Regions from separate parts of the Homo sapiens genome. Here regions 2, 3, 4, 5, 6 and 7 are each linked to region 1. The links come from fine-mapping of genetic effects on plasma protein levels. A gene starts in region 1. Each other region holds a variant in brackets. All regions are shown on one strand. Distances are between the middles of the regions.

Region 1 (4,394 bases):
AGTTTACTTGGCTTACAATTCTGCAGGCTGTTCAAGAAGCATGACATTGGCATTTGCTTGGCTTCTGGTGAGGTCCTCAGGCTGCTTCCACTCATGTGGAAGGGGAAGGGGAGCTAGTGTGCAGAGATCCCATGGTGAGAGAGGAAACAAGAGAAGCAGGAGGTGCCAGGCTCTTTTTAACAACCAATTCTTGTGGGAACTGAGTACTCACTCACCCCCCGACCCCCAGGGAGGACATTCATCTATTCATGAGGATCCACCCACAGAACCCAAACATCTCACATTGTGCTCTACCTCCAACACTGGGGATCAAATTTCAGCATCAGCTTTGGGCGACAAACATCCAAATGACAGCAAACCCAATATCTTATTGTTACATGTTCAGACCATTTTCAGTTTTTCTTTTGAGACAGAGTCTTGCTCTGTCACCCAGACTGGAGTGCAGTGGCACCATCTTGGCTCACTGCAGCCTCCACCTCCTGGGTTCAAGTGATTGTCATGCCACAGCCTCCTGAGTAGCTTTTATTACAGGTATGTGCCACCATGCTGGGCTAATTTTTGTATTTTTAGTAGAGACAGGGTTTCACCATTTTGGCCAGGCTGGTCTTGAACTCCTGCCCTCAAGTGATTTGCCTTCCTCAGCCTCCCAAAATGTTGGGATTACAGGCATAAGCCACCATGCCCGGCCCATTTTCAGTGTTTCTTTTTTCTTTTCTTTCTTTTCTTTTCTTTTTTTTTTTGAGACGGAGTTTTGCTCTTGTTGCCCAGGCTGGAGAGCAATTCTGCGATCTCGGCTCACTGCAACCTCCAACGCCCAGGTTCAAGCAATTCTCTTGCCTCAGTCTCCTGAGTAGCTCGGATTACAGGCATGTGCCACCATCCACACTTGGCTAATTTTGTATTTTTAGTAGAGATGGGGTTTCACAATGTTGGTCAGGTTGGTCTCGAACTCGTGACCTTAGGTGATCCACCCGCCTCGGTCTCCCAAATTACTGGGATTACAGGTGTGAACCACCACGCCTGGCCTCATTTTCAGTTTTTCTTAATAAAAAATCCCACTTCTGAGATGAACATTTTTCATTAATCCTTTTAACACATTTTTATTGAATAGCTACTCTGTGCCAGGCATGTAATAGCCTCATCTCTATGCAAATCCATATGCCTAAATTTTTGCATGACTACGCCTTTCGACAAGTGTGTATTGTGGGAAGGAGGGCATAAACAGGAAGGTGGCATCACTTTAAAATCCACACAGATTTATACAATGTGGTTCTAAGACTTTCTGTAAGTCTTCTCGGGAGGCAACATTATCATCTAATCTTTTGCAGTCCCTCTTATGTTTGCCTACCTCTAGAATGAACCTGAATTTATTAATCCACCTTTATGAAGTGAAAGATTGAGAAGAATTTTCTGTGTTCTTAATTGCCTTTGCTCATCAAATTGCCCCCAAATTGCCCCCACTTGTAGAGTCTCCATGGCCTACTGTCTGCTAAAGTAAAGCAGAATCCCAGTCCTCGTTCCAGACCTGCCAAGTCAGAGTCTGTTTTCATGTGATTCTCACACACATTGGCATGTGAGAAGCACTGAGTTAGACCTTGGTGCTTGGCCCACCCTTGACCATGGTCCTCCTCTCTGAACAACGGAGGTGAGGAGACCAGTAGTAACAGCTGTGTCAGGAACAGGTCAGCACCCAGGGATCCACACAGACACTTTTGACCATTCCTAAGTCCTGCCTGCACAGGAAGTTGGCCACTAAAGATAGGCTGCCTGAAGGAAAGGACATAAGGACCTTTGCAAGCTGTTCAGCAGGGAGAAAAAGGGTGGAACAGGAAAGGGAGGAAAGCAAGTTTCTGGATTCCCCAAACCACAGTTTGTCTAGGTGCTACTTTCTCACTTTTCCTTATTTAGCACATAGCTTTGTCATGAGACATCTTTTTGCTGACCTCTTTTCCGTTTGCATTTTGCCCCATATTAGAATGCTACCATCTAAAACCGCTCCATGAATTAGAAAGTTTAAGTTGTCAGGGACTGAATGTGTCTGTTTTCCAACAGTTTCTGGCAGTTCCCTGCTTTTATGGTGTAGTCATGGTGAAACCTGAGTCATCTGAAGATGGTGGCAGTGCCAGAGAGCAGGAGAGAGGAGCTGCAAAGAAGCCAGACAGCGTTGGGCATCAATAACTCCTGGGCACCACCGGCCACTGGCCTTCATTCTGACAGGAGAGCCAACCCAACCCTAACTGTGTTCAGAGATTGCTCCAAGCTTTACAGTTCTACCAAATTCTTTCTGTAGCAAAAATATAAAGGCATCTTCTTAGGTAATTTTTTTTCAGGGTTCCAAGTAGCAACACCTAACGTCTGCAGTGCGAGTTCTCTTCTTCTTTTTTTTTTTAAGGTGATAAATCATAACATTTTCCTGGAAAGGAAAGCAGTAGACCTCATTTTTTGTTTTAAGGAAAAATAGTTTTTCTGTTTCCATTCATATACATTAAATAACTACCCAGGAAATACGCCCCGGTTTTGCGCGCGTGTGCGTGCGTGTGTGTGTGCGTGTGTGTGTGTGCCGTTTCTCTAAAATTCTGACTCATAGTCTGGAGGACAATGATTGACTTTTTTCCACTTCACATAGTTGCTATGAATTTCTCCTCACAAGGATGGGCCTGTTTACTCACCCTGGGCATCGTTGGTAGAGCGCTAGTGTAAACAGCCTGAGGAACCCGGTGGGCCGGGGAAGTGGGCGCGCTCTGTTCTCCGCGGCCAGCTGGGACGCCGGGCCAGGTGGGGCCGCCTGCGTTTAGCAACTGCTTTCTCACCCCCTGGATTTGCGATGTTTGCCACAGCAGCGAGAAGCGCCATTGTAATGGGGATGGGAGGGGTGGAGCCTCCAAGTCCTGTCTCAATTTAGATCTCTCACTCTGCTGTTAGGCGCGCCCATTTCAGATTACTAAACTCGAATTAAGAGGGAAAAAAAATCAGGGAGGAGGTGGCAAGCCACACCCCACGGTGCCCGCGAACTTCCCCGGCAGCGGACTGTAGCCCAGGCAGACGCCGTCGAGATGCAGGGCCCACCGCTCCTGACCGCCGCCCACCTCCTCTGCGTGTGCACCGCCGCGCTGGCCGTGGCTCCCGGGTAGGAACGTGGGCGCGCGGGGGGCGCGCGGGCGCGCGGGCCTGGGCCGCTCTGCGGCTCTGGGCCAGGGCTTCGGGGAGGTGGCGGCTGCTGTGCAGCAGCGGGTGGGAAATGCCCTCGCGGCTGCAGTCCCCAGCCTGGTACTGGCCTGGAGGTTTGACCATATGTAGCTTCAGCGTGGCTCTCCATGGGACAGTTAACTTTCTCCACTCATGAAGTTGTTTAAGCGTCTCCCCGGCCATAACAACTTTCTGAAGAGAGTCATTTTATTTTTAGTCCACATTGCCTCTGCCTTTTGCTTCTCAACTTTTTGCTCCCAGATTGCGATTCTTCTCTCAAAGACATGATATATTTTTTCTAACCAAGATGTCTCAACCTTAGCATTGCCAAAGTGTGGCGGAGGGGACTGATGTATGGGTTCAGGGGCAGACATTATAGGAAGAAAACAACAGCACCCAATAATGGCAAGCCCCATTCATTCCTAAAGATTTCTGTAGTTGAGCCCTAACCCCTAGTTATAGCAGAGAAAGTGCTGCTTTAGTGACTTCTTTTATGATTCGCTATACCTGGAATTTTCACCAGTTGTAGTTTATTTTCAAATGGTATATTTCAATCAATGGTATTGGTTAAATAATTTTTTACCCTCGTTGGGCAGCTACTCAAGGATAAAGGTTTGAATAAGAAACAGGCAAAATCTTAGTTAAAAAATAACAACAACAACAAGAAAATAATCACGCTGGGATAAGGTCCTCTGTAAAGGAGAAGCTTAGAGACTTTTGCTTTGCCAATAACTCCATTATGCCCCGGTGCAAGCCATTTACATCATGGTTCCTTCTGTGCGGTTCGTGGTTTATAAAATGGAAATAATAACACAGGCCTTCCTCTAGTAGTGATGCATGAATTACTGCATTAAAATTGATTTATGGGAATTATTGTTGTTTCAGTAGCATTTCAATTCAGTTGCCAAATAGAGCAGTGGGCAATGTTAACGGAAACAACTGCAATTGGCGCAGTATGGAGTGCCTATCGCACTAGGAAATCTGAGGGTCACAAAAGAAAGGAGATGTGAGGATAAGAAACTTTGTTTTTCCCTTGTTGGGAACTCTTTAGGCCTCGGTTTCTGGTGACAGCCCCAGGGATCATCAGGCCCGGAGGAAATGTGACTATTGGGGTGGAGCTTCTGGAACACTGCCCTTCACAGGTGACTGTGAAGGCGGAGCTGCTCAAGACAGCATCAAACCTCACTGTCTCTGTCCTGGAAGCAGAA
Region 2 (4,406 bases), 650 kb after region 1:
ACAGATCCAGTTTCAGCTTTCTACATATGGCTATCCAGTTTTCCCAGCACCATTTATTAAATAAGGAATCCTTTCCCCGTTTCTTATTTTTGTCAGGTTTGTCAAAGATCAGATAGTTGTAGATGTGTGACATTATTTCTGAGGGCTCTGTTCTGTTCCATTGGTCTATATGTCTGTTTTGGTACCAGTACCATGCTGTTTTGGTTACTGTAGCCTTGTAGTATAGTTTGAAGTCAGGTAGCATGTTGCCTCCAGCTTTGTTCTTTTGGCTTAGGATTGACTTGGCAATGTGGGCTCTTTTTTGGTTCCATATGAACTTGAAAGTAGTTTTTTCCAGTTCTGTGAAGAAAGTCACTGGTAGCTTGATGGGGATGGCATTGAATCTATAAATTACCTTGGGCAGTATGGCCATTTTCATGATATTGATTCTTCCTACCCATGAGCATGGAATGTTCTTCCATTTGTTTGTATCCTCTTTTATTTCATTGAGCAGTGTAGTTCTCAATGAAAATAAAACTCAGTGTAGTTTTATTTGTAGCTCTTCTTGAAGAGGTCTTTCACATCCCTTGTAAGTTGGATTCCTGGGTATTTTATTCTCTGAAGCAGTTGTGAATAGGAGTTCACTCATGATTTGGCTCTCTGTTTGTCTGTTATTGGTGTATAAGAATGTTTGTGATTTTTGCACATTGATTTTGTATCCTGAGACTTTGCTGAAGTTGCTTATCAGCTTAAGGAGATTTTGGGCTGAGATGATGGGGTTTTCTAGATATACAATCATGTCATCTGCAAACAGGGACAATTTGACTTCCTCTTTTCATAATTGAATGCCTTTTTTTTCCTTCTCCTGCCTGATTGCCCTGGCCAGAAGTTCCAACACTGTGTTGAATAGGAGTGGTGAGAGAGGGCATCCCTGTCTTGTGCCAGTTTTCAAAGGGAATGCTTCCAGTTTTTGCCCATTCAGTATGATATTGGCTGTGGGTTTGTCATAAACAACTCTTATTATTTTGAGATACATCCCATCAATACCTAATTTATTGAGAGTTTTTAGCATGAAGGGCTGTTGAATTTGTCCAAGGCCTTTTCTGCATCTATTGAGATAATCATGTGGTTTTTGTCTTTGGTTCTGTTTATATGCTGGATTACATTTATTGATTTGTGTATACTGAACCAGCCTTGCATCCCAGGGATGAAGCCCACTTGATCATGGTGGATAAGCTTTTTGATGTGATGCTGGATTCTGTTTGCCAGTATTTTATTGAGGATTTTTGCATTGACGTTCATCAGGGATATTGGTCTAAAGTTCTTTTTTTGTTGTGTCTCTGCCAGGTTTTGTTATCAGGATGATGCTGGCCTCATAAAATGAGTTAGGGAGGATTCCCTCTTTTTCTATTGATTGGAATAGTTTCAGAAGGAATGGTAACAGCTCCTCCTTGTACCTCTGGTAGAATTCAGCTGTGAATCCATCTGGTCCTGGACTTTTTTTGGTTGGTAAGCTATTAATTATTGCCTCAATTTCAGATCCTGTTATTGGTCTATTCAGAGATTCAACTTCTTCCTGGTTGAGTCTTGAAAGCATGTATATGTTGAGGAATTTATCCATTTCTTCTAGATTTTCTAGTTTATTTGCGTAGAGGTGTTTATAGTATACTCTGATGGTAGTTTGTATTTCCGTGGGATTGGTGGTGATATCCCCTTTATCATTTTTTATTGCGTCTATTTGATTCTTCTTTCTTTTCTTCTTTATGAGTCTTGCTAGGAGTCTATCAATTTTGTTGATCTTTTCAAAAAACCAGCTCCTGGATTCATTGATTTTTTGAAGGGATTTTTGTGTCTCTATCTCCTTCAGTTCTGCTCTGACCTTAGTTAATTCTTGCCTTCTGCTAGCTTTTGAAAGTGTTTGCTCTTGCTTCTCTAGTTCTTTTAATTGTGATGTTA[A/G]GGTGTCAATTTTATCTCTTTCCTGCTTTCTCTTGTGGGCATTTAGTGCTATAAATTTCCCTCTACACACTGCTTTAAATGTGCCCCAGAGATTCTGGTATGTTGTGTCTTTGTTCTCATTGGTTTCAAAGAACATCTTTATTTCTGCCTTCATTTCGTTATGTACCCAGTAGTCATTCAGGAGCAGTTTGTTCAGTTTCCATGTCGTTGAGTGGTTTTGAGTGAGTTTCTTAATCCTGAGTTCTAGTTTGATTGCACTGTGGTCTGAGAGACAGTTTGTTATAATTTCTGTTCTTTTACATTTACTGAGGAGTGCTTTACTTACAACTATGTGGTCAATTTTGGAATAAGTGTGGTGTGGTGCTGAGGAGAATGTATATTCTGTTGATTTGGTGTGGGGAGTTCTGTAGATGTCTATTAGGTCAGCTTGGTGCAGAGCTGAGTTCAATTCCTGGATATCCTTGTTAACTTTCTGTCTCGTTGATCTGTCTAATGTTGACAGTGGGGTGTTAAAGTCTCCCATTATTATTGTGTGGGAGTCTAAGTCTCTTTCTAGGTCTCTAAGGGCTTGTTTTATGAATCTGGGTGCTCCTGTATTGGGTGCATATACATTTAGGATAGTTAGCTCTTCTTGTTGAATTGATCCCTTTACCATTATGTAATGGCCTTCTTTGTCTCTTTTGATCTTTGTTGGTTTAAAGCCTGTTTTATCTGAGACTAGGATTGCAACCCCTCCCTTTTTTTGTTTTCTATTTGCTTGGTAGATCTTCCTCCATCTCTTTATTTTGATCCTATGTGTGTGTCTGTATGTGAAATGGGTTTCCTGAATACAGCATACTGATGGGTCTTGACTCTTTATCCATCTTGCCAGTTTGTGTCTTTTAATTGGAGCATTTAGCCCATTTACATTTAAAGTTTATATTGTTATGTGTGAATTTGATCCTGTCATTATGATGTCAGCTGGTTAGTTTGCTCGTTAGGTGATGCAGGTTCCTTCTAGCCTCGATGGTCTTTACAATTTGGCATGTTTTTGCAGTGGCTGGTACTGGTTGTTTCTTTCCATGTTTAGTGCTTCCTTCAGGAACTCTTGTAGGGCAGGCCTGGTGGTGACAAAATCTCTCAGCATTTGCTTGTCTGTAAAGTATTTTATTTCTCCTTCAGTTATGAAGTTTAGTTTGACTGGATATGAAATTCTGGGTTGAAAATTCTTTTCTTGAAGAATGTTGAATATTGGCCCCCACTCTCTTCTGGCTTGTAGAGTTTCTGCCAAGAGATCCACTGTTAGTCTGATGGGCTTCCCTTTGTGGGTAACCTGACCTTTCTCTCTGGCTGCCCTTAACATTTTTTCCTTCATTTCAACTTTGGTGAATCTGACAATTATGTGTCTTGGGGTTGCTCTTCTCGAGGAGTATCTTTGTGGCGTTCTCTTTATTTCCTGAATTTGGATATTGGCCTGCCTTGCTAGATTGGGGAAGTTTCTCCTGGGTAATATCCTGCAGAGTGTTTTCCAACTTGGTTCCATTCTCCCCGTCACTTTCAGGTACACCAATCAGACGTAGATTTGGTCTTTTCACATAGTCCCATATTTCTTGGAGGCTTTGTTCATTTCTTTTTATTCTTTTTTCTCTAAACTTCTCTTCTCGCTTCATTTCATTCATTTGATCTTCCATCACTGATACCCTCTCTTCCAGTTGATTGAATTGGCTACTGAAGCTTGTGCATTCGTTATGTAGTTCTCATGCCTTGGTTTTCAGCTCCATCAGGTCCTTTAAGGACTTCTCTGCATTGGTTCTTCTAGTTAGCCATTCATCTAATCTTTTTTTCAAGGTTTTTAACTTCTTTGCCATAGGTTCGAACTTCATCCTTTAGCTCAGAGAAATTTGATCATCTGAAGCCTTCTTCTCTCAACTTGTTAAAGTCATTCTCCATCCAGCTTTGTTCCATTGCTGGTGAATGCAGCTGCATTCCTTTGGAGGAAGAGAGGCTCTCTGATTTTTAGAATTTTCGGTTTTTCTGCTCTGCTTTTTCCCCATCTTTGTGGTTTTATCTACCTTTGGTCTTTGATGATGGTGACGTACAGATGGGGTTTTGGCATGGTTGTCCTTTCTGTTTGTTAGTTTTCCTTCTAACAGTCAGGACCCTCAGCTGCAGGTCTGTTGGAGTTTGCCAGAGGTCCACTCCAGACCCTCTTTGCCTGGGTATCAGCAGTGGAGCTGCAAAACAGTGAATATTGGTGAATAGCAAATGTTACTGCCTGATCGTTCCTCTGGAAGTTTTGTCTTAGAGGGGTACCCAGCTGTGTGAGGTGTCTGTCTGCCCCTACTTGGGGGTGCCTCCCAGTTAGGCTACTCGGGGGTCAGGGACCCACTTGAGGAGGCAGTCTGTCCGTTCTCAGATCTCCAGCTGTGTGCTGGGAGTACCACTACTGTCTTCCAAGATGTCAGACAGGGACATTTAAGTCTTCTGACGTT
Region 3 (4,469 bases), 480 kb before region 1:
GAAAATTTAGTACATATACACCACGGAATACTATGCAGCCATAAAAAAGAACAAGATAATATCTTTTGCAGGAACATGGATGGGGCTGAAGGCCATTATCCTTAGCAAACTAACACAGGAAGAGAAAACCAAATATTGTATGTTCTCACTTACCAGTGGGAGCCAAATGATAAGAACTCATGAATACAAAGAAGTAAACAACAGACATTAAGTTCTACTTGAGGGTGGAGGGTAAGAAAAGGGAAAGAAGCAGGAAAGATAAATAGTGGGTAATGGGCTTAATACCTGGGTAATGAAATAATCTGTACAACAAACTCCCATGACACAAGCTTACCTATGTAACAAACCTTCACATGTGTCCCAAAATCTAAAATACAAGTTTTACAAAAATTATCTTTGAAAAATAACAAACCACTTATATAGTCAGCAGGGGTGGAGGAGAAGGCAGCCAGCTAGGACCAGCTGGTGGCCCTGGAAAAATTATTCATGCACAATTATGGAAATAATATCATCCTAAGTACCACATAGGGCAACAAACGCAGAGTCAGAGATGGTGTGCAGTGAGTTGTCTAATACTAGTTATGCACAATCTTGGTTACCTCATATTTTAGAGTAATAAAAAAGGCAAGGTTTGCAAGTGTAACACATGGAGTAAGTAATCATCTTTATTTCGTATATTCATGGGAAGGTGCACACACACAGCAAAGAGAGGAGTCCTGATACTCTTAGCTTTGCCTGTCCATGCTGGATGTAGACTCACAGCAAGATGGGCACATCTGAAACCAAAAGTGTCAATAATTTTCTGATGGCAGAGGGTTTTTTTGGTTTTGTTTTTCTTCTTTTGTTTTGAGTTTAGAGACAGGGTCTTGACCTATTGCCCAGGCCAGAGTAGTGACGCAATCATAGCTCACTGATGTCTCAAACTCCTGTACTCAAGTGATCCTCCTGCCTCAGCCTCCCAAAGCACCAGGATTACAGGTATGAGGCACTGCACCCAGCCTCATTGTAGAGTATTTATTTATTTATTTATTTATTTATTTATTTATTTATTTATTTGAGACAGGGTCTCATTCTGTCGCCCAGGCTGGAGTGCAGTGGCGCGATCTCAGCTCACTGCAACCTGCACCTCCCAGGTTCAAGTGATTCTCCTGTCTCAGCCTCCTGAGTAGCTGGGACTACAGGCACGCACCACCACACCCAGCTAACTTTTGTATTTTTAGTAGATACTGGATCCACCATGTTGTCTACGCTGGTCTCGAACTCCTGGCCTCAAGTGATCCACAGCCTCTCAAAGTGCTGAGATTACAGGCGTGAGCCACTGTGCCTGGTAATACAGCATTTAAAAAGCAGGACTATGCTAACAAATACGCACTCAAATGAAATATAGTTTCTATTGCATCCTACATGAGTTTCTCAAGATTCCTTATACTTGAACAAATAGATATTCTATGAGAATTTGGCAGCTTCAAATGTGTGGGTTTCATTTAGCATGGCTTCTCAAGTTCCCAGGTCATAAATCCATTTCTCATTCAGTGGCTCTATCACTCTGTCAATCTCTGGCTCACAGTTGCAGTTTTTCAACTCGCAGATGATGTCAAAACATAGAAAAATAGAATCCTGTTTAGTGCTGATGGACATTAACTTCTAACATCAATTTAACTCCAGGTGATTAGTTTAGACTAATCGTGATAATCT[C/T]ATTCCCCTTGCCAGTGATTGCTTTAGGAAATGGCACATGTACCAGTTTTGAAATGAAGTAAAACCTAAAGGAGGCTTCCAGCAGAGGTTGTCTCATTTCTGAAAAGAGACACAAAAAAGGACTCATATCTTCTTTCTTTCTCCTGGTGTTTATGACAGGATATGATTTTGGAAATGGCTACAGGTATTTTGCTACCAACCTGAAGAGGAAGCCAACACAAGGTGGAAGGGAGCCCTTGGCATAATATGCCTGGAATGTCTGCTATTGGCACTAATACAGTGCTTTATTAGCATCCAACTGGACCAGTGTTTCCTATTATTTGCTGTTCAAAGCATGCTACATGATTCTGGTCCCTTTTACATACTTCTCTCATTTTGATTGATTGAGCCCAGCAATGTTCCCCTTTCCAAGGAGGGAGAATGAACTGCAGGTAACAAGTGTTTTATCACATAAAACCTCAAGAGTGAAAAGCACAAAGTATGTCTTGATTATTTTCATTAATAAGCACTTTCCAAGTCATATTAAGCATCAAAGAATTTATAATCAAAATGTATATGCAGTAATTCAGGCCCTATTGAGTACCAAAAAACTAATACTATAGAAAAATCCTTACCACTTCATCTTGTAGCCAAAAATATATAAATAAATAAACAGAGAAAAAAGAAAAATTCTATTTCTACATTAAATGTCAAAGCCCTTCATTTGGAATTCTCTTACTGTGTATCTTGCTGAAGAGAAATCCTATTAATACAACTAGTATGAGAAAGTCTTCAGTGATAGTTCTATCAAACCTGAAGAAATACACTGGGACAAGTCCAATAAATGTAACAAAAGTCAAACATTTATTCTAAAGGACATTAGACTTAATGTTGAATCAGGGAAACTTTAGGTGGAGAAAAATATTATCGATAATATAGAAAGCCAATCATTGGCCTGCTAACCTAAACATGTATCAGAAAAAAATTTACATCTAACCCATAGAAAGTTTCAGTCCCATCTTAATTTTTAAGTACCACTGAATGTACACTGGAAAATAACATAAGCAATGAGAAATGTTTCAATGTCTTTTCATCTTATTTTGGTCATGAGAAAACTCACATTGTAATGAATTGCAACTATACTAAAGTCATAGATTCAGCTATTTTGCCCTCAAGAAAGTACACAATTCAATGACAAAAATAACGTAAAGTAAATCATATCCTTTAAAATTTTTTTGTTTTTTTAGACAGGGTCTGCTTCACTCATCCAGGCTGGAGGGCAGTGGTACCATCACAGCTTACTGTACCCTCAACCTCTCAGGCTCATTCGATCCTCACGTCTCAGCCTCCTTAGTAGCTGGGACTACTACAGTCATGCCCCACCATGCTCAGCTAGTTTTTTTTGTAGTTTTTGTAGAGATGGGGTTTCTCATGTTGCCCTGGCTGGTCTGTCTTGACCTCCTGAGGTCAAGCAATCATCCCACCAGAGCCTCCCAAAGTCCTGGGCTTACATGCGTGAGCCACCCAGCCCCGCCTAAATCATATCCTTAAGTAATGATTTTGTTGGAAAGGTTTTTACAAGTATCACAACATATTCAAAGTAAATTAGCTCTTCCTGGTGATTTAGAGCAATTGTCAGGCAAACTTTTTCTATAAAGGCCACAGAGTAAATATTTTATGTTTTATGTCATGCAGTCTCTGTCAAAACTACTCACTCAGCAATTGCAGTGCAAAACTGGTCAGAAGCAATACATAAATAAATGATAGGTACCGGTCTATCTCAAAAATCTCTATTTATAAGCACACATTGAATTTTATATAATTTAATGCATAATCAAATATTAACCTTCTTTTAATTTTTTAAACCATGTAAGCCATGTGATCCATGATTCCTAAACCACAAGCTGTACAAAAAGTAGACAAAAAAACGGATTAGTCCTACCATGTACCAAGTAGTACAAAACTTCAATAAATACAAGGCTGTGTTTTATTGATGCATGAACAGAAAGGCAAATTAATGAAATAGAATAGAAAACCAAAAAAAACCCACATATATGCATAGAAATTTAATATTTGATAAAGGAGACAATTCAGATTAGTGTGGAAAAGGTGGATTACTCATTCAATGATTGAGTAATCATTGGGATAAACAGATTCACCTATTAAAAATCCAATTGAGACCAGGCTCAGTGGTTCACACATGTAATCCCAACACTTTGGGAGGCTGAGGCACAAGGATCACTTGAGCCCAGGAGACTGAGATCAGCCTGGGCAAGATGGTGAAATCTTTTCTCTACAAAAATGAAATAAATTAAAAAATTAGACAGGAGAAGTTACGTGCACCTGTAGTCCCAGCTACTTGGGAGGCTGAGGTGGGAAAATAACTTGAGCCCAGAAGTTTGAGGCTGCTGTGACCTATGATCACACCACTGCACTCCAGCCTGGGTGACAGAGTGAGACCCTGTCTCCAAAAAATAAAACAGTAAGAATAGATGTAAAAGTATATATGTATAAAATATTAAAAATCTGTTTGAACAAGACCTAACAACCAAAATCAAAACACATCTCAGGAACATCAAATATTTAAATGTTAAAAAACAAGCCCAAACCATACCAGAGGAAACCACTACCAAATATTTTATAGTCATGGAATGAGGAGGGCATTTCTAAGAATGAAACAAAATCCAGAGACAATAAATATAAAAAGATTCATGAATTCATCTCATAGATATTAAAAATATCTCCATGGCAAATTCCACCAAAACAATGTAAAAAACAAAGGACACACTGGAAAG
Region 4 (4,469 bases), 490 kb before region 1:
ATTATCTTTTTGCAGTGTTACGGAAGAAGTCTTTGGTATTTTGGGAAGGGGGGAGATTTGCATATGCTCCTGGGGTTTTTGTGAGAACTATTAATTTGAAATTGATTGTAACTCAGATACCACGCATGTGAGTTTTGTGTTATCTATAATAAAGGGATTTGCTAAACAATGTTAAGAAATGGGGGCCAGGTGGGTGCCCAAATGTTGCAGCCTCTGGCTACTCAGAACTACCATTTTAAGCACCTACCCAGCTCTGCCTCACCAGGGAAGGGCTTCTGCTCCAAAAGGACCTTTTTTTCTTCTTCCCTAAAAAAAATCCCATTTTTTCTATTTCACTAGCAATTTTGCACTAAGTGCCAAGGGTTAATCCCAGTGGAATTATTTTCAAAGAGATACAGAATGTTAAAACTCTGGAATACAAAGCAACAAAGCCCGATAGAGATGTTTTAGACAGGAGGAAGAATTACAGAGTGTTATCCTAGAGGGAAGAAAGGGCTTCCCACTACTGCTCTAAAGAGATCAAATAGTTATGTGCCTGTTCTATCAACTTCTAGATGAGGGAAAAGAAAATTGTGTATGGTATATGCTTGCTTGACCAACTTAAAAATGTTAAACCGCTTCCAAACATTTTTGGAAATACTTTAGCAGTACTTCCCACTCCTTCCATTTAAAGCAAAATATACTTACAACAGTTATTCTATCCTAACCATTCATGAAAATGGGCTGCCAGATCTTCAAGTGACAACTTCTATCAGTCTAGATTCAACTGCTTTGAGAATCTGGTACAAGTAAAAATTGTTTCTTTGAAAAACTTAAATTTTATCTCACACAGCTCTGAGATTTGAAAACAAAATAGAAATCTAAAAATGTTTTTAAAATAAAAATAGGCTGAGCACAGTGGCTCACGCCTGTAATCCCAGCCCTTTGGGAGGCCGAGGTAGTTGGATCCCCTGAGGTCAGGAATTCAAGACTAGCCTGACCAATATGGTGAAACCCCACCTCTACTAAAAGTACAAAAATCAGCCAGGCGTGGTGGTGTGCGCCTATAGTCCCAGCTACTCAGGAGGCTAAGACAGGAGAATTGCTTGAACCCGAGAGGCAGAGGTTGCAGTGAGCCAAGATTGCAGAGATCACACCACTGCACTCCAGCCTGGGCAACAGAGTGAGACTCCATCTCAATAAATAAATAAACTAATTAATTAAATAAAACAAATTTTCATTAACTGCGACAAGACTTCTCCCTCTAGCCCACCTAATTCCAAATTACTGAAGTTTTTGCTACATTTCAAAACAGAAACGTAGCAGATACATTATGCACAAACTATCGATTTAGGCACTGCTCTGGAAATCACAGCACCACAAAAACTGGTGAATGGCAAAACTTTCCTGTTCAAATAAATAGGAAGGTCAAAGGTACATTGATATGATATATTACTCTTTGCCTAGTCATATGATTTACTTCTTTTCTGTCACAATGTTGGCGACTATTTTAAGTCCAGTATGCTCTAGGATAGATATCAGGGTTCTAGGGTTTCCATACACTGTCATAACACCTGCACCTACTTTTAGAACTTTTCACTTGTATGCTTTTTTAGGTTTTTTTGGTTTTGTTTGTTTGTTTGTTTTGTTTGATTGTTTTTGGACACAGTCTCTCTCTCTGTCACCCAGGCTGGAGTGCAGTGGTGCAATCTCAGTTCACTGCAACCTCTACCTCCCAGGTTCAAGCAATTCTCGTGCCTCAGCTTCCTGAGTAGCTGGGATTACAGGTGTACACCACCATGCCCGGCTAATTTTTTGTGTTTTAGTAGAGACGAGGTTTCACCATGTTGCCCAGGCTGGTGTCAAACTCCTGAGCTCAGAGGATCCACTCGCCTTGGTCTCTAAAAGTGCTAAGATTTACAGGCATGAGCCACCGTGCACAGCAGCTTTTTTTATCTTTGGTGACACTCATCTCTTTCCATTACTTGCTGCTTCTTCCTTCTCTGTTCCTTTGCCTGCATTGCTGTGACTCACTTCCTGTATCACCAATCCCTATCCATTCCTGTGCCCCCCAAGTAACTAGGTACTCACACCCTCCCCTTGCTGCAGCTCAGGGTGCCACTCACCCTCACTTAAGCCATGAGGACATCACACCATGCACACCCCCAACACATAGATGCTTTTCAGAAGTGCTGGCACTG[G/A]CGCTCCTCATCTGAGCCCTCTGGCCAATGCTGCAATGCCCAGTTCTACCCCCGCTACCAGAAATCCCTCTGCTTGCTTGGTGGGAGAGGAGGCAAACCCCACTCCAGGATGGGAGCTCCTTGCTCTCTTTTTTTTTTTTTTTTTTTTTTTTTTTTTGAGACAGGCTGGGGTACTGTGGCACGATCTCGGCTCACTGCAACCTCAACCTCTCGGGTTCAAGAAATTTTCCTGCCTCAGCCTCCCTAGTAGCTGGGATAACAGGTGTGTGCTACCACGCCTGGCTAATTTTGGGGTTTTATTTTTTGTTGTTGTTGTTGTTGTTTTATTTTTCTGAGATGGAGTTTTGGTCTTGTTGCCCAGGCTGGAGTACAATGGTGCAATCTCAGCTCACTGCAACCTCCACCTCCTGGGTTCAAGCAATTCTCCTGCCTCAGCCTCCGGAGTAGCTGGGATTACAGGCATGCAACACCATGCCCACCTAATTTTTGCATTTTTAGTAAAGACGGGGTTTCACCATGTTAGCCAGGCTGGGTCTTGAACTCCTGACCTCAGGTCATCCACCCTCCCCCGCCTCCCAAAGTGTTGGGATTACAGGCGTTAGCCACCACGCCTGGCCTAATTTTTGTATTTTTAATAGAGATGGGGTTTTACCATGTTGGTCAGGCTGGTCTTGAACTCCTGACCTCAGGTGATCCGTCCACCTCAGCCTCCCAAAGTGCTGGGATTACAGGCATGAGCCACCACGCCTGGCCACTCCTTGCCTTTAGGGTAAACTAACTCTTCCACTCTGGGTTCCCAAGCCCTTGGTTGTCACCTGCTGCCCCTCCCCTTCCCCATATCTACAGCATCTCACCCTTTCCCCTCATAAGTATGCTTAAGCCTCTCCCATGTTACCAACAACTTTCCAGTACCCTCTCTTCCTCTTTTTTTTTTTTTTTTTTTTTTTTTTTGAGACGGAGCCTGGCTCTGCCGCCCAGGCTGGAGTGCAGTGGCGCGATCTCGGCTCACTGCAAGCTCCGCCTCCCGGGTTCACGCCATTCTCCTGCCTCAGCCTCCCCAGTAGCTGGGACTACAGGCGCCCGCCACCACGCCCGGCTAATTTTTTATATTTTTAGTAGAGACGGGGTTTCACTGTCTTAGCTAGGATGGTCTCGATCTCCTGACCTCCTGATCCGCCCGCCTCGGCCTCCCAAAGTGCTGGGATTACAGGCGTGAGCCACCGCGCCCGGCCGTCCCTTCCTCTTTTTTACTCTATACACCACCTTGACTTTAGAAACAAACTGCATCTTATAAAATAAATTATATAAAGTACTTCCATTTCCACAGCATCCACCCCACTAACCAGCACATGACAGTCAGACTCACGACCACCCAGCAGCACAGAAAAGCTGCACTAGAAGTTCATCTGTGACCTCTTAGAAGCTAATTCGGCCGGGCACGGTGGCTCACGCCTGTAATCCCAGCACTTTGGGAGGCGGAGGCGGGTGGATCACGAGGTCAGAAGATCGAGACCATCCTGGCTAACACGGTGAAACCCCGTCTCTACTAAAAATACAAAAAATTAGCCGGGCGAGGTGGCGGACGTCTGTAGTCCCAGCTAGGCGGGAGGCTGAGGCAGGAGAATGGCTTGAACCCCGCGGGGCGAAGCCTGCAGTGAGCCGAGATTGCGCCACTGCACTCCAGCCTGGGCGACAGCGAGACTCCGTCTCAAAAAAGAAAAAAAAAAAAAAAAAGCTAATTCAAGGGACACCTTCAACCAGCATCCCTTTTGGCTTTTCTTTAATAGTGGACACTGCAATCACTCTTTCTTTCTCTTAAAATTTCTCATCTTTTAGAACGCCACCCCTTTCCAGTTTGTAAGTTATGGAGAAAAAAACCAAAGTATTTTTTCTAAACTTTCACTCAACAATCGACACAGAAGACTTCTGTGACCTCTGGTCACCAAGGCGTTGTATGGGGATTTCTCTCCGCTGTCAAAAGACAAAATTACAACACAATTTAGTTTGAAGATCTTAATTGGTTTTTGTTTGCAATTTTAAAATTGTGCAACACCTCCTTCTATACAATTGAATGAATGTTACAGTGAGTCAAGCAGAGGAGGCTGGTTTTATAAACTGACAAGAGCTGAGAAGGTCAGAAACAGTAAACAAAATGCAGATTGGTTTCAGTTAATTTCCTCATAAAAGTTAAAGCAAAGGGAACTTCCTTAACATGTTGGCTAAAACTGGCCTGTTTGGAAATTTAGTTATTGTCTCTATCTCTCTTGATTTCTTGAAAGGTCAAACAAC
Region 5 (4,469 bases), 440 kb before region 1:
CATCCAACTGGACCAGTGTTTCCTGTTATTTGCTGTTCAAATCATGCTACATGATTCTGGTCCCTTTTACATACTACTCTCATTTTGATTGATTGCGCTCAGCAGTGTTCCACTCTCCAAGGAGGGACAATGAACTGTAGGTAGCAATGTTTTATCACATAAAACCTGAAGAGTGAAAAGCACAAAGTTTATCTTGATTATTTTCATTCATAAGCACTTTCCAAGTTACAGAATATTAAGCATCAAATAATTTTTTTTTGAAATCGAGTCTCGCTCTGTTGCCCAGGCTGCAGTGCAGTGGTGCAATCTTGGCTCACTGCAACCTCCACCTCCCGGGTTCAAGGAATTCTCCTGCCTCAGCCTCCCGAGTAGCTGGGATTACAGGTATGCTAATTTTTGTATTTTTAGTAGAGACAGGTTTTGCTATGTTGGCCAGGCTGCTATCGTCAAACTCCTGACCTCAAGCGATCTGCCCGCCTCGGCCTCCCAAAGTTCTGGGATTATAGGCTGAGCCACTGTGCCCAGCCTAGCACCAAATAATTTATAATCAAAATGTATATGCAATAGTTCTGGCCTTATTGAATACCAAAAAATCCTTACCACTTTATCATGTAGCGAAAAATAAATAAATAATGAGAGAAAAAGTCATATTTATACATTAAAAATCAAAGTCCTTCAGTTGGAATTCTCTTACTGTGTATCTCACTGGACAGAAATCCTATTAATACAACTAGTATGAGAAAGTCTGCAGTGATATTTCTATCAAACCTGAGAAAATACACTGGGAATAGGTCCAATATATGTAATAAAAGTCAAAAAATTATTCTCAAGGACACTAGACTTAATGTTGAATCAGGGAACCTATAGCGAACAAAAATACTATAGAAAGCCAATCACTGGCCCTCTAACCTAAACATGTACCAGAAAAATATTGACATCTAATGCATAAAAAGTTTCAGTCCCATCTTAATTTTTAAGTATCACTGTCTGTATACTGGAAAATATAAACATAAAAAGAAATGTTTCAATGTCTTCTATTTTGGACATAAGGAAACTCACATTTCAATGAATTGCAACTGTACTAAAACCATAGATTCAGCCATTTTGAACTCAAGGAAGTACACAGTTTGATGACAAAAATAATTTAAATTAAATCATATCCTTTTTAAAAAATTCTTTTTTTTCCTTTTCTTTTCTTTTCTTTTTTTTTTTTTAATGAGACAGGGTGTCGTTTTGTCCTCCATGCTGGAGTACAGTAGCAAGATCACAGCTAACTGCACCCTCAGCCTCCCGGGCTCATTCGATCCTCCCATTTCAGCCTCCTGAGTAGCCCAGGCTGATCTTGAACTCCTGGGGTCAAGCAATTGGCCCATATCAGCCTCCCAGAGTAGAGGGGTTATAGGCGTGAGCCACAGGGCCCAGGCCTTGGCCTAAATCATATCTTTTTTTTTTTTTTTTTTCTGAAACACGGTCTCACCCTGTCACCCAAGCTGGAGTGCAGTGGTGCAATCAGGGCTCACTGCAACCTCTACCTCCCAGGCTCAAACAATTCCCATGCCTCAGCTTCCTGAGCAGCAGGGACTACAGGCCTGAGCCACCATACCCAGCTAATTTTCATATTTTTTGTAGAGATGGGGGTCTCCCTATGTTGCCCAGGCTGGTCTCTAACTTGTGGGCTCAAGCAATCTGCCCTCGTCGACCTCCCAAACTGGAGGGATTACAGGTGTGAGCCACTGTGCCTGGCCCTAAATCACATCCTAATAATAATTTCATTGAAAATTTTTTTATAGATATCACAATGTATTTAGAATAAATTAGCTCTTCTAGTAATTTAGAGCAATTGTCAGACAAACATTTTCTATAAAGGGCCGGACAGTAAATATTTTATACTCTGTGGCATGAAGTCTGTGTCAAAACTAGCCTCACTCAGGCTGGGTTCAATGGCTCACATCTGTAATCCCAGCACTTTGGGAGGCCAAGGCAGGCGGATCACTTTGAGCTCAGGAGTTGGAAACCAGCCTGGGCAACATGGCAAAACCCCATTTCTTCAAAAGATAAAAAAAAAAAAATTAGCTAACCATGGTGGCTCACGCCTGTAGTCCCAGCTACTCAGGAGGCTGAGGCTGGAGAATGGCTTGAGTCTGGTAAACGAAGGTTGCAGTGAGCTGAGATCGTGCCACTGAACTGCTGCCTGGGCAACAGAGTGAGACTCTACCTCAAAAAAAAAAAAAAATTATCCACTCATCAAATGCAGTGCAAAAGGGGTCAGAGGCAATACATAAATGATGGGTACTGCTCTGTCCCAATAAAACTTTATTTATAAACACATATTGAATTTTATATAATTTTATGTCATAAAA[G/T]ATCATCCTTTTGGTTTTTTAAACTATGTAAAAATTTTAAAATAATTCCTAAACTACAAGCTCTACAAAACACAGGCATGAAAAAGGCTTAGTCCTATCTATGTACTAAATAGTACAATACTTCAATAAATAAAAGGCTGCAGTTTTACTAATGCATGAAAAGACCAATCAGTGAAATAGAACAGAAAACCAAAAATACACCCACATATATGCATAGAAATTTAATATTTAATAAAGGGGACAATTCAGATTACTGTGGAAAAGGCGGATTACTCAATCAAGGATTGAATTATCATTGGAATAAACAGGTTAACCTGCCGGGTACGGTGGCTCACGCCTGTAATCCCAGCACTTTGGGAGGCCGAGGGGGGTGGATCACAAGGTCAGGAGATCAACCATCCCGGCTAATATGGTGAAACCCCGTCTCTACTAAAAACACAAAAAATTAGCCAGGTGTGGTGGCAGGCGCCTGTAGTACCAGCTACTCGGGAGGCTGAGGCAGGAGAATGGTGTGAACCCAGGAGGCAGAGCTTGCAGTGAGCCAAGATAGCACCACTGCAGTCCAGCCTGGGTGAAAGAGCGAGAGTCCGTCTCAAAAAAAAAAATAAATAAATAATAAAATAAAATAAACAGGTTAACCTATTAAAAATCCATTTGAGGCCAGGTGCACTAAGTCACACCTGTAATCCCAGCACTTTGGGAGGCCAAGGAGGGAGGATCACTTGAGCCAAGGAGCTTGAGATCAGCCTGGGCAAGATGGTGAGACCTTGTCTCCACAAAAATAAAAACAATTAAAAAATTGGCCAGGCATAGTGGTCCATGCCTGTAGTCCCAGCTGCTCAGGAGACTGAGGTGGGAAGATAACTGGAGCCCAGGAATTTGAGGCTGCTGTGAGCTATGATCATACACCGCACTCCAGCTTGGGTGGCAGAGTGAGGCTCTGTCTCCAACAACAACAGCAACAACAATAACAACAACAAAAAACAGTAAAATTAGACTTAAATATATGTAAAATAATAAAAATAATAAAAATTCACTTGAACTATACCTAACAACCTAAATCGAATCACACCTTAGGAACATCAAACATTTAAATGTAAAAAAGAAAACTCAAACCATACCACAGGAAACCATTAGCAAATATTTTATAGGCATGGACTAAGGAGGGCATTCGTAAGAATGAAACAAAATCCACAGATAATAAATATAAAAAGATTCAAGCTGGGCACAGTGGCTCATGCCTGTAATCCCAGCCCTTTGGGAGGCCGAGGCGGGTGGGATCACTTGATGTCAGGAGTTTAAGACCAGCCTGGCCAACATGGAGAAACCCCATCTCTACTAAAAATATAAAAATTAGCCAGGCGTGGTGGTGCGTGCCTGTTATCCCTGCTCCTCGGGAGGCTGAGGCAGGAGAATCGCTTGAGCCAGGGAGGCAGAGGTTGCAGTGAGCTGAGACTGGGCCACTGCACTCCAGCCTGGGCGACAGAATGAGACTCTGTCTTAAAATAAAAATAAATAAATAAATAAATAAATAAATAAATAAATAAATAAATAAAAGACTACGTAGCTATAAGAAATTACAAGAAAGTGTTTCTGCTCTAAAATGCAACCATCCACAAGATATATTGAGTTAAAAAATGGCAAGGTGCTAAAGAGTGTATTGTATGATGCTATCTATACAGAAAAAAGAAGAAAAGAAATTGTGTATGTGTATTTATCTGAGAACTAAGGATACACAATAAATTAGAAACAGGTTTCTTATGGCCAGGAGCGGTGGCTCATGCCTGTAATCCCGGCACTTTGGGAGGCCGAGGTGGGCGGATCACGAGGTCAGGAGATTGAGACCAGCCTGGCTAACACAGTGAAACCCCGTCTCTACTAAAAATACAAAAAATTAGCTGGGTACGGTGTCAGGCGCCTTTAGTCCTAGCTACTCGGGAGGCTGAGGCAGGAGAATGGCGTGGCCCCGGGAGGCAGAGTTTGCAGTGAGTGGAGATCGCGCCATTGCACTCCAGCTTGAGGAACAAGAGCAAGACTCCGTCTCAAAAAGAAAAAAAAAAAAGAAACAGGTTTCCTACAAGAAATGATACTGTATAGCTGACAGACAGG
Region 6 (4,469 bases), 520 kb before region 1:
TTAAATATAACAGAAATTGTATTTATGTACTGAACAGGCAGGTAATTTATCAGATATGCACACCAATGCAACGTATAAGTACTGTGTAAAGGATTCACCATTTGGGGAAAGAGCTTTGTTAAAACAGTGCAATGCAAAGCTTACCTGCTTCTTACCGGTATTGTTTTCAATGAATTACTACATCTAGGATCAAGGCTACTCTTTTTTTTTTTTTTCAATTTTTAAAACTATTTCAACAGATATAAAATTATCCTGTCAAATTGCTATTAAAAGTTTCTAAGCACTAATCTCTTCATGGATTGGTACCCAAGAGTTGGTGAAGCAGCTCTGGTCCTCAGATCACACTTTTAAGGCCACTCTTAATAAGATCCTCAGTGACAGTTGTTTTCCTGTCCGTTTGTTTTATACAACCATGTTTTATGTCAGTTGTCAAGAACTGAATCAAAATACTGTGAAACCTGTTCTTTTTGTGAATATCAACAAAACCACTGATGCAGATTATTCATTATTCTGAAGAGAAATGACCAAGACGCTATCGATTGTGCCTTGCTCTTACCGTCTCTTACTATCTCCGTGCAATAATGGTCATGCCTGCTATGTTTCACTTTATGAAACCTTTTCTTTCCCAGGCCAGACTAGCCTTTTAGAGAATCAAATGAATACATGAATAAGGTCCAGGGTGAAAACTCAAAGAAGTCTTTAGTTGAAGCTGACAAACGACTTTACACTGGTACCATTGGCTAATTCTATCCCCTCCTCCCACCCTCCCTGAAGCTGCTAGGGAGAGGTAGTCCAAGAAACAGGACAGCCTCTGTACATCCTTGAGCAACTCATATTCCCTCTTCAAGCCTCTGTTTCCTCACTGGCAAACTGGGGATGGTAATGGTATTGACCTCATAGGGTTGTAGTAAGGAATGAATAAATGAATAAACATTTGCAAAGCACTTAGAACGGTATACACGGTCAGCACTATGTAAATGCTAATATTATTACCCTTGAGTTGTCTGGACTCCTTATGCCTTCCAGCATGCTGCCTCCACTGCCCGTCCTCTGCTCTGGGTCAGTCTTTTCCTTTCTGAGCTCCACCCGCTTCCATGATGAGTCACATGAGAAGAGCACTTTGTTCTGTCTTTGAATCAGGGTGCTCCCATCTTCCAAAACATACACAGCCTCACCTGCTTGCATCTCCTTCACCTGGAAGCACTTGCCATTTTCCCCTTGAAGTTACCTTCCCACTACCTGGACTGAGAAATTACTCAGAGTTGGAAGAGCAGTTTTTTTTTTTTGAAACAGAGTTTCACTCTTGTTGCCCAGGCTGGAGTGCAACGGCGCGATCTTGGCTCACTGCAACCTCCACCTCCCAGGTTCAAGCGATTCTCCTGCCTCCGCCTCCTGAGTAGCTGGGATTACAGACATGCACGACCATGACTGGCTAATTTTGTATTTTTAGTAGAGACAGGTTTTCTCCATGTTGGTCAGGCTGGTCTCGAACTCTCGACCTCAGGTGATCTGCCCCCCCCTTGGCTTCCCTAAGTGCTGGGATTACAGACATGAGTCACTGCGCCTGGTCTAGAAGAGCAATTTTTTCAACCATGAAGAGCAATCATGAGCCAATGTTCCAAGTAAATCTCACCTCTTTTCTCCTCAGGGTGAGCTTGCTGCCTTCCCAGGCACCCTCTGAAGAAGCAACAGGATAATGAAAGGGAGAAGTTAGCTCTTCCCTCTCCCTCCCTGACCCTTGTCGAAGCCTGACTATAGACTCTTTAAAACTCTTCCCAGCGTTCAGTGCATGCATTTGAAAAATAGGTCTTGAGCTTCAACTGTGCACCAGGCACAGAGATAAACGTTAACAAAAAAGATGGATCCCTGCTTAGAGTTGTGAGGAACTACCAGAAAAGTAGAGTCAATTACAATGCAGAGCAGCATATTACTACAGTGACAGGAC[G/A]GTTTGGGCCAACCTATATCGGCACTTTTGGGGAAGGTGGCATTTGGGAAGACTCTAAAAGAAAGAAAAGAAGAAATCTGGTAGATATGTAGGAACTAGCCAGGTTACTAAGGAGGATATAGAGGCTGGGCAGAGAGAACTGCAATTGCAAAGAAGCAGAAGTGAAGGTGGCATTAGAAAGCACGGGTGATGGTTGAAGGTGGAGGACAAGGATGAGGAGAGTAAGGCTGAAGAGAAGAGCAGGAACCATAAGAATGAGCAGGAATGTGGGGGATTCTAAGTACAGAAATGAATTTATCAGATCAGTGCATGATATGGTTTGGATCTGTGTCCTTGCCCAAATCTCATGTCAAACTGTAATCCCCAATGTCAGAGGAGGAGCCTGGTGGGAGGTGATTGGATCATGGGGGCGGATTTCCCCCTTGCTGTTCTCATAATAGCAAGTGAGTTCTCATGAGATTGGTGGTTTAAAAGTGTGTAGCACCTCCCTCCCGCTTCTCTCTTTCTTCCTGCTGCTCCGGCCACATAAGAAGCCTGCTTCCCTTTTGCCGTCCGCCATGATTTTAAGTTCCCTGATGCCTCCCCAGTCGTGCTTCCTGCACAGCCTGCAGAACCATGAGCCAATGAAACCTCTTTTATTTATAAATTTTTCAGTCTCGGGTATTTCTTTACAGCAGTGCAAGAATGGACTAACGCAGTGCTTCATTTGAAAACTTGGAAAGATGACTCTGATTGCAATGTAAGGAATGTATTGGGAAGAGAGAACTATTATTACAATACCTGGATCTGCTGGGGCCTGAGCTGGGCAGTCATGATGGAGAATAGTCAAGGATGGATTTCAGATAGGATTTGGATATTTACTGATTGGAGAGGATGGAGGGAAAGAACAGGAGGAATCAAGGATGGCATATCTGGAGGATGGTGAGACAGGCTGGCTTGAGGGGAGATGGTGCATTATTGTGAGTGTTGAGTTCAAGCAGTCACAGTAGGGCTCAGCAGGTAGGTGGATCTCTGGATCTGACACCCAGGAGAGCAGTCTGGAATATGGACAAATTTGGTAGCTGTCAGCACAGAGATAAATGGTTTGTGGAAGTCTCACCCCAGGGAGTAAAAAGAGAAGATGGTCAACACAGAAGTCTAAGGCTCACAAACAGGAGCTGCAAAAGTAAGAATGCTCTGAAGGAGATAGATTCAAACAGCCAGACAGATGGAAAACCAGGAGAGCGTGACAGAAGAGAAGCCAGAGGAAGAAAGTGTTTCAAGTAGGAGGCAGATGTCAACGCTGTTAAATGCTGCTAAGAGGTCAAAGAAGATAAAGAGTGAGAAGGTCCTTTGAAAGTGGCAACAAGGAGGTCATCTGTGACTTCGGAGAAAAATTCAGTAGAAGGAAAAGGGTTTGAAGCCAGATGGTAAATAGAACACTTTTTTAAATTACCAGAATCTCTCACTCTAATATGAACATAGATGAAGTGTCAAGAATTTCTTTGTAACTAGCAAAGGCTCATCAACTCTTCTAAAATAGCTCAGATCTGATCAGTGAACTGAAGAACCACTAATGACATTTCAGAGTTCCTGAGGTGGATATGCAAATCAGGCCTCACTGTTACCCTGGGTTGGGTGATAAAGTTTTTCAGTTTTCTTGCCCCTGTGTTATTCCTGTTCTGAAAGGCATGTATGGGACCATTATCTTGACCATCCCTAAAATGCAATCTCAGCTGTGAATCCTTCTTGCATCTCACTTCATATTTCAGGCAAGAATACTCCGCAAGTAAAGAAGAGGCACGTGTTTGCCATTGCGGGTTTTGTTAAATCTACAAGCTGTTTAATCATCACCAGTTCTTAATTTTGCTGATGGCATCTCTGCTATTTTAGCAGAGGTGATGAGTCTTTGTTTGCAAGTCACTATTAAGACATTCTTGACAGCCAATCTATGACATGTTACAGTAAAGGACGCTGCTAAAGAACATTTTATGGATCATTTAGCACATATCTTTAAAATCAGCTAATATACTCCCTGGAATGTTGTTTTTGCTTGTTTTTGTTTTGAAGGTAATTAGTTGTGGCTACATTTGCTCCGAGGCTGTGTTAAAGTAGTGTTTTCACTGAAGATGCACTTACTTTGTAGCATGTGAGATATTAAACCTTTTCTTTGGCTATAATTTAAACTGAGTTTTCTATTATTTGCTAAAAATATAGAATCTCCTATTCCATGTTAAAAATATTTTAAAGTAGTCAACATGTATAGTCAATTTATTTATTTACTTATTCATTTCACACTTTATTATTTGGTTTTTTTTTTTACACTTTAAAATTTATGCAAGATTTTACACTCCTAGGAACACAAAATCCCCAAATTTAGTCGCCATATCAATGCTTACAAATTCCTGGCAGGAAAGACTTCTTCGGATCTGGAAGTTCTTGCTTGGGTTTTACTACTCTTATACCCTTAAAAGAAAATCCAACAAAAATCTACAGGAGGGGCCAGGTGCAGTGGCTCATGCCTATAATTTCAACACTTTGGGAG
Region 7 (4,469 bases), 1.3 Mb after region 1:
TCAAAAACAATCAAATAGTATCCATTTCATATGCCTAGATCTACATTAAATGGTTTTGTGAACATTAGGGTGTTTCTTGAGTATTCACTTTCTGTCTCAACCTGGACTAGTTACAATGAAGGTATATAAAGCTTACCTCCACCTATAAAAGCTGACACTCCAGGTGTGACTACAGACTGCACAGGGATTAGCAATGGGGGTCCAATGGCTGTTTCAGGTTTCTGTGATTGAGACCCAGGCAGGTTCAGAACTTTTAATCCACTGCCATTCTCTCTCCAGAATAGCTCCATTCTCCTGAAAGTCAAAAGCACAAAGGAAGATAACCCTTGTCTCCCTACAGGCTTTCTCAAGTAAAAGAAGAGCTAAAACAAGAAACCTTCAAGTAATAAGGCTTGCGCAGCACGGCACACCATCTCAGATTTTGCCAGCTCCTGACTCACAGACCAATTACCAGTCAGAAATGTTTTATTTGACCTATAGAATATTTTTATTTTTAAAAACAAATGAATAAGTACCAGCATTTAAAATATGAGAGACATTTTTACATGAACAATTAGATTTCTGGTTCCTCTTGAAACACTGGAGGACTAAGCATACCCACATCTCCTTATGACAACAGTTGGCAGAGGCTGATTAGCCAGGGGTCCTCTGAGACATGAGTATACTTTCCACAGTCACCACCAGCCCCAGTTGTCTCCTAGACCATTTTCGATTCACTGGAGTTTGAATCTCTCTGCTCTACTTCTAGTTCCACAATGTCTTCTGTCTCCTAGAAGCGCCTCAAGCAATTTCATGATATTTTTCTCCCAATAACACCTCCTGGGCTCTTCATTGGAAGACGAAGGACACAGGAACACAGGCTTTGGAGGTAGATAGACCAGAGTTCAAAGATGGGCCCGATGTTTGTTTTTATTATTATTATTATTATTATTATTATACTTTAAGTTTTAGGGTACATGTGCACAATGTGCAGGTTAGTTACATATGTATGCATGTGCCATGCTGGTGTGCTGCACCCATTAACTCGTCATTTACATTAGGTATATCTCCTAAAGCTATCCCACCCCCCTCCCCCCACCCCACAACAGGCCCCAGAGTGTGATGTTACGCTTCCTGTGTCCATGTGTTCTCACTGTTCAATTCCCACCTATGAGTGAGAATATGCGGTGTTTGGTTTTTTGTTCTTGCGATAGTTTACTGAGAATGAAGATTTCCAATTTCATCCATGTCCCTACAAAGGACATGACCTCATCCTTTTTTATGGCTGCATAGTATTCCATGGTGTATATGGGCCACATTTTCTTAATCCAGTCTATCATTGTTGGACATTTGGGTTGGTTCCAAGTCTTTGCTATTGTGAATAGTGCCACAATAAACATACGTGTGCATGTATCTTTATAGCAGCATGATTTATAGTCCTTTGGGTATATACCCAGTAATGGGATGGTTCGGTCAAATGGTATTTCTAGTTCTAAATCCCTGAGGAATCGCCACACTGACTTCCACAAGGGTTGAACTCGTTTACAGTCCCACCAACAGTGTCAAAGTGTTCCTATTTCTCCACATCCTTTCCAGCACCTGTTGTTTCCTGACTTTTAAATGATTGCCATTCTAACTGGTGTGAGATGGTATCTCACTGTGGTTTTGATTTCCATTTCTCTGATGGCCAGTGGTGATGAACATTTTTTCATGTGTTTTTTGGCTGCATAAATGTCTTCTTTTGAGAAGTGTCTGTTCATGTCCTTCGCCCACTTTTTGATGGGGTTGTTTGTTTGTTTCTTGTAAATTTGTTTGAGTTCACTGTAGATTCTGGATATTAGCCCTTTGTCAGATGAGTAGGTTGCGAAAATTTTCTCCCATTTTGTAGGTTGCCTGTTCACTCTGATGGTAGTTTCTTTTGCTGTGCAGAAGCTCTTTAGTTGAATTAGATCCCATTTGTCAATTTTGGCTTTTGTTGCCATTGCTTTTGGTGTTTTAGACCTGAAGTCCTTGCCCATGCCTATGTCCTGAATGGTAATGCCTACGTTTTCTTCTAGGGTTTTTATGGTTTTAGGTCTAACGTTTAAGTCTTTAATCCATCTTGAATTAATTTTTGTATAAGGTGTAAGGAAGGGATCCAGTTTCAGCTTTCTACATATGGCTAGCCAGTTTTCCCAGCACCATTTATTAAATAGGGAATCCTTTCCCCATTTCTTATTTTTCTCAGGTTTGTCAAAGATCAGAGATCAATGAAACAGAACAGGGCCCGATATTTTTTAAAACTTCAGGAAATGGCTCATGTGATAACAATTTCACTCTCAAATGAGTCACAGAGGCAAGCCAGTGCACACATTCTTTTTCATTTGATCTTTTTACAATTCTGTCTTGTTCTCAGCCTAGCTTCTTCGGTTTACACAGAACTTGGTTGAACCTGGAAAATGCCTTATTGTTTCACCTTTATTCTTGTTCTCCTGCCAAGGTAGGATGTTTTCCCCACTGAGCATTTGGCTTAAGTTGGGAGTTACTCCCTCCCAACATGACCA[A/G]TGGTACCCAGATAGGTTTAATAAAATATATTAAACATATTTAGAATCAGTGTATATTTTTCCAATCACGAGCAAGACTTCAAATATGTCTTGAAAGCAGGAATGTGATTCTTTGATTTTATGTCTCTTGGTTCCACTGCAGCTTCACTTTCCTAACTGAACCTAAAATAAACTTATAGTCTGATCATATTGTACTTAAGTTTCTACCTACCAAAAGGAATCTGTTATTTCCTACATTGTTCTTTAGCTATTTTCTACACAGTTTTTCGATCTAGATTTAACACTCCTTATTGGCAAGGATTATTTTTATATGTTTTTCATGGATTCCTGGGCACTTAAAACAGTATCAGGCACATCAAATGGCTTCAAATAAATACTTCTTGCTCCCTGACTCAATTTTGCTCATTCCATTTTATTTGTTTAGAATTCAATGTGAATGCTTTCATTTGAGGTAATATTTCATTTATTTATTTAAAATATAGCCAATAAACAAAACATTGTAAAATTGCTGCAGGAATTTTACAGATCTTCTTTGTCTTTTGTTTGGGATTTTAATCTGGAATAAAAGTTTGGTATGCTGTTCACTGTAGAAACGGTGCTTTAGGCTGGGCGCCGTGGCTAACACCTGTAATCCCAGCACTTTGGAAGGTTGAGGCAGGTGGATCATTTGAGGTCAGGAGTTCGACATCAGCCTGGCCAACATGGTGAAACCCCATCTCTACTAATAAAACAAAAACTAGCCGGGCGTGGTGGCATGAACCTGTAATCCCGGCTACTCTGGAGGCTGAGGCAGAAGAATCGCTTGAATCTGTGTGCAGAGGTTGCAGTGAGCCAAGATCACACCACTGCACTCCAGCCTGGTGACAGAGCAAAACTGTTTCAAAAAGAAAGAAGGAAAGAAAGAAAGGAAGGAAGGAGATGAAGGAAGGAGAGGAAAAGGAAGGAAGGGAGGAAGGGAGAAAGAGAGGGAGGGAGGAAGAAAGGGAGGGAGGGGGAGGGAGGGAGAGACAGAGAAAATAAGGGAGGAAGGAAGAAGGGAGGAAGGAGGGAGGGAGGGAGGGAAGGAAGGAAGCAAGGAAGGATGGAAGGAAGGAAGGAAGGAGGAAGGAAGGGTACTTTAGACATTGACGCATCAAAAAATGTATGATCAAGCCCTCTGCCTTAATGGAAGTGACACCATGCCTACTCAGAGAAACACCTGTCAAAGAAGTTATTTTGGTATGAGTTGCATCTACATGTTGCAAAATGGTATCTAAAAAACCAATCTGATGCATGTATTTTTGTAAATGTTTATAAGCTTGAAATGTAGTATTAGCATTTCCTTTCCTCATTCTTCCCAGACCCAAATGTTTACAAATAGGAGTGAATCCAGAAATATTTTCCATCTTAATGTATGGATATCTTATATATCTTGTGATGCTCAGACACAAAGGGACAAAGACATTGCCATATAGACAAAGGAAATTGCCAGCATCTCTTATCCTTCAAAGAGAAACTCAAAATAAGAAAATCAGAACAACGGAGTCACATAAGTAACAGATCATAGAAGTCAAGAAAAGCAAATATAGGGAAATAAGCAAGACTCACATGTTGAGAGGGGTGGGGGGATGAGGGAGTGGTGGATAGAGGAGGCAAGATGCAGGACTAACTCTGCAACCTACCGTGTTTGTCAGGATATACCGCTTGCCACTGAACCCAGGCCTGTGTGCAACCATGCTGACTCTGCACAGCTTGACTCTGGGGGGAATGGAGCCCCCAGCTGTATAACACATAGGCCCTCGGCAGTCATAAAGAGACCCAACCAGTCTATACCAGTAAGCCCACATCTGCATCACCAGGGAAAGGGAGCAACATAAGAAATATTGTAATATACCAGCATACTATTTTATAGTTGTTTGCCTTATAGTATTTTTCCCCTGTTCCAAACCAAAAGCAAGACCTTTTTAA

Alleles and levels. Positions count from the first base shown, and alleles are read on the strand shown. Strength reflects both the effect of a copy and how common the allele is.
For the plasma level of the protein whose gene starts at base 3,041 in region 1, A is the low allele of the variant in region 2 and G is the other (moderate association).
With allele C in place of T in region 3, the plasma level of the protein whose gene starts at base 3,041 in region 1 is lower (moderate association).
For the plasma level of the protein whose gene starts at base 3,041 in region 1, allele G in region 4 goes with a lower level than allele A (moderate association).
For the plasma level of the protein whose gene starts at base 3,041 in region 1, allele G in region 5 goes with a higher level than allele T (moderate association).
For the plasma level of the protein whose gene starts at base 3,041 in region 1, A is the high allele of the variant in region 6 and G is the other (moderate association).
For the plasma level of the protein whose gene starts at base 3,041 in region 1, A is the low allele of the variant in region 7 and G is the other (moderate association).

What was found. PIP is the chance, under the fine-mapping model, that this variant and not a neighbour inherited with it causes the effect. The UK Biobank Pharma Proteomics Project read protein levels with antibody pairs (Olink). The fine-mapping took linkage between variants from a reference panel, not from the people measured, so its PIPs are less certain.
Region 2: its variant is fine-mapped to the plasma level of the CD109 protein (UK Biobank, PIP above 0.99).
Region 3: its variant is fine-mapped to the plasma level of the CD109 protein (UK Biobank, PIP above 0.99).
Region 4: its variant is fine-mapped to the plasma level of the CD109 protein (UK Biobank, PIP above 0.99).
Region 5: its variant is fine-mapped to the plasma level of the CD109 protein (UK Biobank, PIP above 0.99).
Region 6: its variant is fine-mapped to the plasma level of the CD109 protein (UK Biobank, PIP above 0.99).
Region 7: its variant is fine-mapped to the plasma level of the CD109 protein (UK Biobank, PIP above 0.99).

Annotation. Positions count from the first base shown.
Region 1 is chr6:73,693,163-73,697,556 of GRCh38, forward strand. It overlaps CD109 (CD109 molecule), which reads left to right and starts at 3,041. Exons shown (of 33, transcript NM_133493.5): 1 at 3,041-3,127; 2 at 4,238-4,394. The coding sequence starts at 3,054. CD109-AS1 (CD109 antisense RNA 1) reads right to left here and starts at 2,969. Exons shown (of 2, transcript NR_110889.1): 1 at 2,670-2,969; 2 at 741-2,413. RefSeq lists enhancers at 2,671-2,930, 2,884-3,598 and a silencer at 3,161-3,210.
Region 2 is chr6:74,338,941-74,343,346 of GRCh38, forward strand. All of the region lies in intron 1 of LOC101928516 (a long non-coding RNA gene), which reads left to right. Among named protein-coding and RNA genes, the nearest start is that of CD109, 640 kb to the left of the region's middle. The variant A/G (reference allele first, on the strand shown) is at 1,936.
Region 3 is chr6:73,216,980-73,221,448 of GRCh38, forward strand. No RefSeq gene overlaps it. Among named protein-coding and RNA genes, the nearest start is that of KHDC1L, 6.3 kb to the right of the region's middle. The variant C/T (reference allele first, on the strand shown) is at 1,696.
Region 4 is chr6:73,198,957-73,203,425 of GRCh38, forward strand. No RefSeq gene overlaps it. Among named protein-coding and RNA genes, the nearest start is that of KHDC1L, 24 kb to the right of the region's middle. The variant G/A (reference allele first, on the strand shown) is at 2,181.
Region 5 is chr6:73,250,599-73,255,067 of GRCh38, forward strand. The region is part of intron 1 of KHDC1 (KH domain containing 1); the gene reads right to left. The region is part of intron 2 of LOC122539213 (KHDC1-KHDC1L); the gene reads right to left. Among named protein-coding and RNA genes, the nearest start is that of KHDC1, 10 kb to the right of the region's middle. The variant G/T (reference allele first, on the strand shown) is at 2,361.
Region 6 is chr6:73,173,882-73,178,350 of GRCh38, forward strand. All of the region lies in intron 11 of KCNQ5 (potassium voltage-gated channel subfamily Q member 5), which reads left to right. Among named protein-coding and RNA genes, the nearest start is that of KCNQ5-AS1, 33 kb to the left of the region's middle. The variant G/A (reference allele first, on the strand shown) is at 1,946.
Region 7 is chr6:74,944,820-74,949,288 of GRCh38, forward strand. No RefSeq gene overlaps it. Among named protein-coding and RNA genes, the nearest start is that of SNORD156, 180 kb to the right of the region's middle. The variant A/G (reference allele first, on the strand shown) is at 2,523.